Linked DNA regions of Homo sapiens: region 2 is linked to region 1. Evidence: fine-mapped expression QTL. A gene starts in region 1. The other region holds a variant in brackets. All regions are shown on one strand. Distances are between the middles of the regions.

Region 1 (5,382 bases):
GTAATTTGAACACTGAGGTGGTAATGCAGTAAATGCCGATGAACAAACAGGCATCAGAGGGTCTGTGTGAATGACTCCTGGCTCATCCTATGTCCATCTGCTCCTGCCTCTTCTCACCGCATTGCCCTGGATTTTAAAAATTCTAACTTAAAATGGGAAATTTCTCGATTTTTTTTCCCTGGAAGCTTGTCAATGATATAAATGTTAAATTCATGGTTCAATGATATATTTTTTAAATTTCTCAGTAAGCTATTCTAAAATTAGCTTTCTAATTGTGCACATTGCTTCTTCCTCTCAGCTCTGTGCCCTTTGCCATCTTCACTGCGGTCCTCTACTTCCCCCGCTCCTCCCCAGTCTTCCACTAGCAAACAAACCCAGCAGTAATTACTAATGTCCAAGCACGTAATTCCGGCAGCATTAGGCTTTTCATTTGACGCAACTACGCAGACAGCTGTCTGGACATGCAGCATGAAGTTAAAGCATTTTTAAAGATTCCTGCCCATATTTTCTCTCCTCCACTACTAAAACACAGTTGTTTATTTTTGTCTGCAGATTGCAAAGTTATAAACTTCTTTTATACGTTTACATACTCATATATAAATGTCCACCCAAATAATTTTACATCCATGCAAAATAACAGATCAACATATACATACATGGAAACACATGGTCATCTATAAAAAGAAAAAACACTAGGAAATAATTAAATAGCAGCGAATGAAATTACCTTCTGTATATGGACAGGGAATTTTAGTGTCTGTAGCATACAGATGATAGGAGGTATGACTATCTAAACACAATCCAAGTTCTCATTTGGGGTCTTTTAAGGGGATCATGATAGCGTTTCTTTAATGCATTGTATAGATTATTACATATGACGCTGTTACTCTTTTTTGCTAATGACTCAAATGGCATAATTTTGACTCTGGTCATTTTTATGCCAGTTTTATCTACATCAAACAGAGAGAAATACCCCTGATGACTTTTGCTCTCTCAGATGCTCCAAGCCTCAGAGTAGAAAATGGTTAAAGTAGTTATTACCACCTCAGCAAAATCCCGCAGTGCCATAAGAGAAATTGCAGTAGACCTTTAGGTCAGAGTTAAGTTCTAGTTTAACACCATGGTTCTTTACCTGCATTACCCTGAAGGACACACTTGGATTCTCCTGAGGAAGGCCAGTCTTAATATTGTCAAAATCTAAAGCTATCAGCCTGCGATAACCAGTGCTGATAGCAAATACTTCCAGTAACTCTGAAACCGTGGCCAAAGAGGTTAAATCTATTCAGTACAGGACCAGTAAAATTTCTCAGATATGTGTTTTTGTGGATGAATGCTTGTATTCATGCCTGATTGCAAGGATGGGGGAAGAAGGAAAAGGAAGAGTGATTCATTCTTAAAGTTGATTCTGCTTAGTTCAGCTAATCTCACATTTTTATCAAATGGAAACATAGAGAGAGATGTATCATCCCTATAAACAGATAGCATTGGCTTCTTCATATATACAGTACTTATGCTCACCCAAGATCTGTAGACAGATCTACTCTGTGTTAAAAAACAAAACCAAACAAAAACCTTGATACCCTGCTGGAGGATAAATCCATATTTTTTAAAAAATGTATTTATTTTCTACGTAAAATAAGGGTCAGAGGGCAACACAGAAGATTTCCACAAGTAGACTATTTTGTTGAAGCTATGCAGGAGGTGAGGAGGGGAACAGGAAATTGTCTGCAAAGGAGTCTCTGTGAGGAAGATTTATTTCTTTCTTGTTTTCTTTTAAGCTACTATGACTCCTCTATTAAGGGTCTCCGTAAGACCGGGGTCTCAGGGAGACAATTTGGTCTCCAGCCCTGGCACATCCAGCCCCGGCCAGGCATTTCTGCCGCAGGCAGATGAGGCGCTGCGGCCGGACCGCTGTCCCCGGTGCTGAAAGGTCGAGGGCGCCCGCGCGAGCCCTCGGTGTTGCTATCCAGGGTGCTGAGCGCGGGCCGCCGCAGTCCCCGAAGCCAGCCCACCCGCGCCAGCCCTCCGCAGAGCCCTCCCACCCGGCACGACCCGCCCGCCTCCCGCCAGCCTGCAGTTGACGTGGAGCAGGCGGCATAAATCAAGTCCGCGGGGCATGGAGGCTGCTGTCGCTGCAGCAGCTCAGCTTGCCCGGGGCGGGAACTCCCCCTTTCTCCTTTCGCCTCCCCAGCACCCACACCCTGTCTCCCCCTTAATTCTTCCCTGGATAATAGCACCCTAACGACAACAGTCATAATAATAGGGTTAGAACGACAGGGGAGGAAAACTCAACAGCCTAAATATCTCTGAAAACTGCATCGCAAAATGGAAGAAAGAGGGGGTCCCACTACTGTTTCAAAAGAGTAAGTTATTATTCGGTACGTACCCTCGCTCTTCCTCCCCGTCGCTCCATTTGCAGGGCTCCCGTTTCCCTTTTCCCCAGCAGCTCACCTCGAAAACACTTTATAAAGCCCCCACCAGACGTGCACACACGGAATACCGCACCCTAAGTGCACCAATACTTGTATTTACCCAAGCCCACTCGGACTGCCCAGCTGCTGTCCCTTCTGGGTATGCAGCCATCCCGAGCCAGAGCCACGACCTGGGGAGGGGGGTTCTTACCTGGGCTTCTCGGGAGGGTTGTGTTCTCCGGGCCTCTGCAGGTTGCAACTGTGGTGGAGCCGCCGAGCAGGGAGGGAAGGAAAGACAGCGCCTGACCTCCCCGAGGTTTCGTCTTCAATGCAACGTGAGCTCTGCCCTCATCAAAGATGGCCGTCCGTTTTGACGTCAGCAGCTTTTAATAGCCGCCCAGCGAGGGGCGGGAGGAAGTGGGGGCGGGGCACGGCGGGGGCGGGGGCGGGGCCCGGGCTGCGGCGCGCTTGACTCGGTTCCCAGTGCGCTGGCCTGCAAACCTGCGTGTTTTCACCTTCTATAAACACCCGCACGGGGCGACTCTTATGACTCCATTTTAACACTCGGTCTTGGGCAAACGCGTTCATCCCGCAACTGCATTCCTGATGTTCTTTGGTGTGTGTGCGTGTGTGTGTACATATGTGTATATGTGTGTGTATGTATATATGTATGTGTGTGTATATTTTATAATACATGTATAATATATGTATAATTTGTGTGTATGTGTATATATTCCCCCCCACCCCCACCCCCACCCCCTTTCAGTGGAATCTGTGGTTGAGTCATCTAAGGAGAGGGGAAGGCAGAGGAGGGGTAAAAGGTAGTGATGGGAGGGGTGGGGGAAATTTCAGCGGCGATTTGTTTTCTCCGAAGAGGGTCCGTAGGGGCATCCCCGTCCACCCTCGCCAGCTCCATATATGGCCAGGCTACGTGGGTTGCTATTTTTATGAGTGATTGCTTCATGTTATCGAAGCAGCGTCGAGGGCTTGTGGCTCTCGTTGCTGTGGTCAGCCGGGCAGCGAGGCTGGCGCACGTTATTTTGAACTACGTCAGAGCCAGGCTCTCTGAGCTGTTGCAGGAGTCGGGGGAAGGAGAAGGGAAGCGGAGTTAGCCCAGCCAGCGTGGGTTTGCAAGGACTCGAGGCTTGAAGTTGAGTTGTTTGCCGAGGGCAAAAACGGATGACTCTGCTTTCGGTGGAATTTGCAGTCGGTGCTGGGGTTTCATGCTGGGTGTCTTAGGGGTACCCCACGGAGGCACAGACGCCCCGAGGGAACCGTCCAAACGGCCGGGAGGAGGTGGGGGATTCAGAGCAAGGACGGCTGGGACACGGCCGAATCTGGGGGTTCACTCAGTGCGCAAACCCCGGGGTACCCGTGCAGGCTGCCTCGGGGGGCCCTCGGATGCTCAAATCAGGGCGGGGAGACAAAGGCTACTTGTGCTGGTCGTATTAGAGATTAAAAGTGATAATTATAAAGCAACAACCCTAACTGTCCTCCCTGGCCGTGCCCGGGCCCGGGAAGGGGGTGGTGCGCGGATCGCTCGGCGGTGGCAGCCTCCCGGATGATTCACAGGTGTTGGGGAGGCTGTCGCGGGGCTCTCCGCAGGGAGGGAGGGCTGGGGAGCGCGTGGGAGGTGGGGGACCTCGTCTGAGGAACTGTTTGTACTTTTCCGGGAAGGATGCGATTAGAAGTCGTGCCTCGCAATGTTAAAACTTGATGGCCTCTTTTAGGCTATGGAAAATCCTTGTCTCGCTTAGGAGAAACCATTTAGAGCTGGGTTCGGAAAAGCGGCGTACAACCTCTCCCCTTGCACCCTCGCCCCCCACCCCCGCCCCACCACACACACACACACACACACACACACACACACACACACATCCCTAGCTGGCCTGAGAGCCAAGCTTAGGCAATAATACGGCCTTTGATTGCGCTCCATTGCGGAGGGAGGGAAGCGGGGTAGGGGGAAGGGAAGAAGAGTTGTGAAGGCGCTGCGTTTAGAAAGAGACGGGTTGTTAAGAATTTAATAAAGGATACCTTTAATCGAAATTAGTAGACATAATTGTTTCTTAAAGATTCCCTGGCCTGAAGGCTTTTTTTTGACGTATTGATGTTTTTGCCATAATAATTAACAGTGTTTGGATGTTAATTAAAGCCAAATTCCTAAAAAAGGCATGTTGCTGAAATTTGTTTACTTAAATATTCATTAAACATTTAAGATTGCCATACAATAAAGAAGAAAATCTGCAAAGTCCTTAGATACTTAATTGCCAATAAAAGTCTCTTGAGTATGGCTCTTACTTTCATTATAAAGCAAGTTGGAATAGGGGGAAAGGGGTTTGAATGCAATGTACTGCAAAATCCTTTGTAGTCAGAATTTTTTCCAAAGTGTGACACTTTAAAAAAAGGCAGCATGCGGAAGTTTGAAGAGAAAAAAAAACCTGCAGAGGGAGAAAAAAAAATGTGTGTATGGCCCTCAGACTAGAAATCATTCAGGCAGAAAGTTTTGTGAAGGAATGGAGGAGGTGGGGGATTTTCCAAGTTAAAAAAAAAAAAGAAGTTAAAAAGCAACTACGTCAGTGATGGAGGCTTATCCTGCAGGCAAAAGCTATGTAGCAGTCACAGGGAAGGACTGGCTTGGTATTCTGAGTTTTCAACTGCTGATGCCCCACACTGACATCTATAAAAATGACAGACAAGAAGAGAGAGGCAGACTGTTTCAAGGCATTACAGAAAATACCATGGACCCTACAAGATTAGCTGGTGGTGGTGACAATGTTTTCCATTGCTAGTGCTTGTTGTGAAAATGATGCTGTTTGAGAGGTTCTTAGAGGTTCTTCATCTTGCTCTGGGAAAGGTAACAGAGTGTAATTTGAGATACATAAACATTGGGTACATAAAAATCTGCTAGGGATGACCAGATAACCCTAAATGTATTTTGAATAGGATAATGAGATTTTTTTCCCTTAGGATT
Region 2 (5,382 bases), 31 kb after region 1:
GGACTCTTAGCAGCAGCATCAGAAAAAAAAAAGGTCAAGATCTGGAGCTTAAATGGCTCCATACCATATATTTGTAACTTCACAGCAGCCCCCAGAGTTAAAGAAAAATATTGGAGGTCCTAAGTCTGAGAAAAAATTGGTGCTCCATCATTAGTTTGCCTATGAAATTCTGTAACTCGACATGGCTGATTACATCCATTTTTTTTTTCGGTCTATAGAAGCATGAAGGGATGCCTACCTTTCCAGATCTAATAACTTCCCATGGGACTGTAATGATGGTTAGTCCCTTACACCAAAATCCCCACTATTCCTCTTTCAGAATTGCCGTTATTTTCCCATTAGGACATTTCTATTCCTGGAGCTTGTTATCCTGACCCCATTAAGTCATAGCTTTGGAAAGACACACTTATTTAATTCCTGTCCTCAGAAATCATTCCCATTATTTCTTTATTTCATTGATTCTTGCTCTGCAGTATTTGTAATTGGTTCTTGTCATAGGAAGTCAAGAGGCTGAAAAGAGTAGAAAGGATGCTTTTCTCCAAGATATGACATATGCCTACCTGTATAGAACTGTTGTTTTCGATTTCTGCTCTTAGGAATATAACTGGGAAATGCCCCACCAATACCCTGCTGAAGTATAATGGGGAAGGGGGAGGGCAGTTCATTAGTGTCAACAATTTTGTCAGAGTGGAAATTAGCATCTCTCACAAATGGATATGATCACAGACTTAGGCACAGATCAGTCTGGGTATATAATGCTAGTCTGACTTAGCAGCTTGCTATCTGACCTTGAGCACAACCATTTAATATTTCTGTAAAATGTTCCCCTCATCTAAACTTTTGCACTTCTAGCTCATCTTTACCCTTCAAATCTCAACTCAAATGTCCTTCCTCTGAGAGGCCTTCTCTGCCTGCCCTCCCATGTAAAGAAACCAGCTCCATTTCTGGGTAATTATTCTCTCTTTTATTACTTTATTTCCTTCCTTCTGCTTATGATAATTATCAGAAATTGTCTTATTTACAATGTTTGCTTATGTGCTTATTTCTGATTCAACTGCTACTTTATCCCTAGCTCAGGATAGGTGCTCGGTTAATTAATGAAATGTCTGTGCAAGGCCAAAATCACTAGCCAGTCTGGTGAGAAGACTCAATCCAAATGATTATTTGCTATCCTCTGCTTAGCACTGTCCACTGGAAATATAATGCAAACCACTTATGTAACTTTAAATGTTCTAATCATCACATCAGAAAAGTCAAAAGAAACAGGACAAATTAGTTTTATATTGTATTCTACTTTACCCAATATATCAACATATTTCAACATGAAAGTTATTAACATAAAAATTATCAATGACTTTATTTACATTCTCTTTTTTATAGTATATTTTTTGAAATCTTGTATGTATTTGTTACATGTAGCACATTTTAATTTGAATGTTAAATTTTAATTCGGAATACTCGATCTGTGTTTAGATTTTGTAAGATTTATAGTTGAAAGAGGAAATTCACATACCCAAATTGTTCCAAATACGTTTAAATATTTTTCAATACTCTAATCAAGCAGCAGGTTTTAAATTTAAGTTTAAATGAATTAAGATGAAATAAAATTAAAAGTTCAGTTCCTAGTTACAATAGACACATTTGGAGTGCTTAATGGCCACATGTGGTCAGTGGCTACCATACTGCAATTCTAGATCTTGCCAAACATTTCTCATCATGTTGTCTTGTGGAAACATGTTCTTACAATCAGGTTATGTTATTCCAAAAGGAAGAAGAGAAAGGAACTTGCATGCATTAAATGGAGGTATACAGCGGGCACTTTGGTAAATGTTTTTTAAACAACCCTTGTAATGAATCTATGAGGCAAGTTTCATCATACTCATTTTATACATTGGGAAACTGAAGGTTGAGAGAGAGTTTGCTGCAGGCCCATAATGTCCCTCTTCCACTCCAGCGGTTTTTGGCTGAGAAGCCAGTGAGCAAAGGGAAGCTCACTCTCAGCTTTCTACGCGGTCCTCCCGACATCTTCCCAAGCACTACCCCGACCATCTGAGAGCACACCTGGCTTCTTCTCCTCAGGTAGAGGCAACGCAAAGTAGGCTTTCTGCTTCTCACTCTTGCAGAACCTGGGGTTGAATGGCCACAGGTGAGGCCCTCTTGCCTAAGGAATAGAACTAACATCCTTCTCCCCCTTTAAAGGGCTGAGAGAGCGCTGCCTTATCTCAGAGCCAGAGTGTAGACAATTGAGATCTTTCCCCACGGTTCTATGGGAAAGCCTCTGGGTTGGGATGGCCTCTGGGGATATGGAAACAAATTGGGCTGCAATCAGTTAAAATCTTCTGCATTATTTAACGTAGACAATGCTCCTTCTATCCTTTGAAAAAAATAGTATATTTATTTGTATTTTTATTTCATTTTTTAATTTTATTTTTTTTGAGACAGAGTCTCACCCTGTTACCCAGGCTGGAGTGCAGTGGTGTGATCTCAACTCACTGTAACCTTTGCCTCCCAGTTTCAAAAGATTCTCCTGCCTCAGCCTCCCACCTGAGTAGCTGGGAATTACAGGCATGCCACCATGCCCGGCTAATTTTTGTATTTTTAGTAGAGAGAGGGTTTCGCCATGTTGGCCGGACTGGTCTCAAACTCCTGACCTCAGGTGATCCACCCGCCT[T/C]GGCCTCCCAAAGTGCTGGGATTACAGGTGTGAGCCACTGTGCCTGGCCAATTGTATATTTAAAACAAGTTTGACGTGCCCAGTCATAATCTATCTTTACGCACTCAGTTTCTCAAAAGGGTTTGGGGGGGAAATAATTTTGATGGCTTTATATGTCTAAGATTACCACTTGAACTTCAATATCCCCTTTCTCTTCTTCTTTGGTGGCAGAACACCTTATTTTTAGCTGGGCACATACATCTCCCCTGAGAACAAGAACAACATTTCTCAGCTTTCCTTGCAGATAGGTGTGGTCATATGACTAAATTGGGCTAATGCAGTGTATGAGGAAGTGTTGTGTGAGGCTGATGAGCAATTTCCTTAGAAAATGAGCCTTTACCCTTCTTTACTTCCTTCCTCTACTGTGCAGGCTGGAATGCAGGTTTGATGTCTGGAGTTTCAGCAGCCATTTTGAGCCATAAAGTGAAGGCCAAGAGCAACAAAATAAAAGAAGCTCATATTCTTGGCACCGTGGAGTGCTAAATCTGCCCTGCACTATTTAAATTTAAATTTTTTTTATGTGAGAGGAATATAAACTTTTATTTCTTTAAGTCACTGTTTGCATTGTCTATCATAGGCATCTGCACCCAAATCAAATTCTAACTGAAACACACACTTCTGAAGTAGAAGACAGTTATGGAAGTGAGTGTTCTGCAACTGAAATGGCCCGATTAATTAGGTTACACATGGAGATGAGAGGTATGAGGCCTCACTTAGTCTGCTCATTATTAAAATGTATCTGATCTGTAGGCCCATCATCCATATTTATTCATGATGTAAGAAATTTGCATTAGATTCTTAGATTAAATATTAGGCCAGATGTAGAGACTACAACATTTTCCACATCTTGTTCATTTTACCATTTTTTATCTATTGATACATATTTATTTTTAAATTTCCTTTTGTTTCACTTTTACCTATATTTTTTGATTCAATATTTCTTTTGTATCTTTTCTTTTCTTTTTTGAGACAGGCTGTCACTCTGTCACCCAGGCTGGAATGCAGTGGCACAATCATGGCTCATTGCTGCCTCGACCTCCTGGTTCAAGCCATCCTCCCACCTCAGCCTCCTGAGTAGCTAGGACTACAGGCATATGCCACCATGCCTGGTTAATTTTAATTTTTTGTAGAGATGGGAGTCTTACTATGTTACCCAGGCTGGTATTGAACTCCTGGGCTCAAGCCATCCTTCCACCTTGGTCTTTCAAAGTCCTGGGATTACAGGAATGAACCATCATGCCCAGCCTGGTTCAACATTTCCACATTAGACTTTCCAATGTTATTTTTCACAGACACAGAGAGAGAATCATTACCAAGTGGAGTATTTTTCTGGTTAGGGCAAAATGGCACAAGGGTTGAACAAGGAAGAAGACAAGGTTGGCTTTCTGGGCTGTCAGAAAGTTATGCTTGTGATGTTGGCATCATTACCCAAGTATGGTTAAGAACGTGCAAAGGACATATGCAAAAAGTACATGTGCAGGAAGAAGACAGAAAGGAAGTGCCCAAATTGAGAGCAGTTGTTACTCTCTGGAGAATGGAATAGAACTCACACTATTATTTTTCATCTTATATACTTTTGGATTATTTGTTGTGTTTTTATCCTTAGAATCAGCATTTTTTATTCTATAATTTGAGAAATAGAAATTAGTCAAGAGGTGCATAGTCAAGAGGTGGTAGTGATTCTAAAGTCACAGAAACCATGGGAATGTTCAGCTGTGCCTCTGTCCAAAAGCCATTCACAGACCTAAGACCACATTCTGGAAAACCTTAGCTCCTGCTTGGATCTGCCCTTGTGTCTTCCAGGAGAGTTTCCTCTTTCCTGCTTAATCAATACAGGAGAGTTGTTTCTGGGTAAGTAGTAGGAGGGCAGTGAAATGCTGGGCCAGGCTGAGGGTTACCTGCAGACTGGGTCAACACAGACTCCAACCTAAATATTTACCCAGGTGCTGATTGCATGACTGTGCTTTCATTTTGTCATCACACTGTTTGCTGAGTTCCCTGAAATACCCTACTTCCTCTTACTCCAGACATTTTGCTATTCTTCCTCCCAGGAATCTATTTCTCTGTCCAGCTTCATGGTCATTGGCTTGTTATTGTAGATGATTGCATTAAAGGTCACAGATTTCCATGCCTCCATTTACCCACAGCTTTGGTTAGTGACCTTCCATACTGGTTCTGGGCTTGGCTGAGATGTGTTTAGCTAGGGAGACAGTAGCCAACTCATTGAAAAAAGTGGCTCAAAAAAGGGCATGAACATTTTGGCTTTCTCTCTTTCCCTTGGATCCTTGCCACAATCTAGAGAACAGGCTTGAGCTGGCCTGCTGGAAGGATGTGAAAGATACATGGAGCAGAGCCAAGTCATCCAAGCCAAGGCCACCCTGAACCAGGAACTGAGAGCTAATTCAGCAGCTGAGAGTGGATGCCAGAACAAGCCCTGCCAAGATCAGCCAAGACCAATCCAGATTTGCAGAACTTCCTAGTAGAAATGTAAGCGCATGAGAAATAACAAATGGTTGTTGTTTTATGTCACTACGTTTTGGGATGGTTCGTTACATAGTAACAGCTAATTGCTTCAGTTGCACATTCCTTTCCTCATCTGCCTTCCTCCTTCCACCTTACCACAAGCACATCAGCCCGTTTCTAAACAACTGCCTCATTTCCAATTCTCATAG

The links. PIP is the estimated chance that this variant, and not a neighbour inherited with it, causes the effect. A credible set is the group of variants that fine-mapping cannot tell apart.
Region 2: its variant is the best candidate, but not a certain one, in a credible set for the expression of SNAP25 in lung (TOPMed, PIP 0.64).

What each region holds. Positions count from the first base shown.
Region 1 is chr20:10,216,218-10,221,599 of GRCh38, reverse strand. It overlaps SNAP25 (synaptosome associated protein 25), which reads right to left and starts at 2,770. Exons shown (of 8, transcript NM_130811.4): 1 at 2,623-2,770. It overlaps SNAP25-AS1 (SNAP25 antisense RNA 1), which reads left to right and starts at 2,094. Exons shown (of 5, transcript NR_040710.1): 1 at 2,094-2,363.
Region 2 is chr20:10,185,623-10,191,004 of GRCh38, reverse strand. All of the region lies in intron 2 of SNAP25-AS1 (SNAP25 antisense RNA 1), which reads left to right. All of the region lies in intron 2 of LOC105372524 (a long non-coding RNA gene), which reads right to left. Among named protein-coding and RNA genes, the nearest start is that of SNAP25, 31 kb to the left of the region's middle. The variant T/C (reference allele first, on the strand shown) is at 2,672.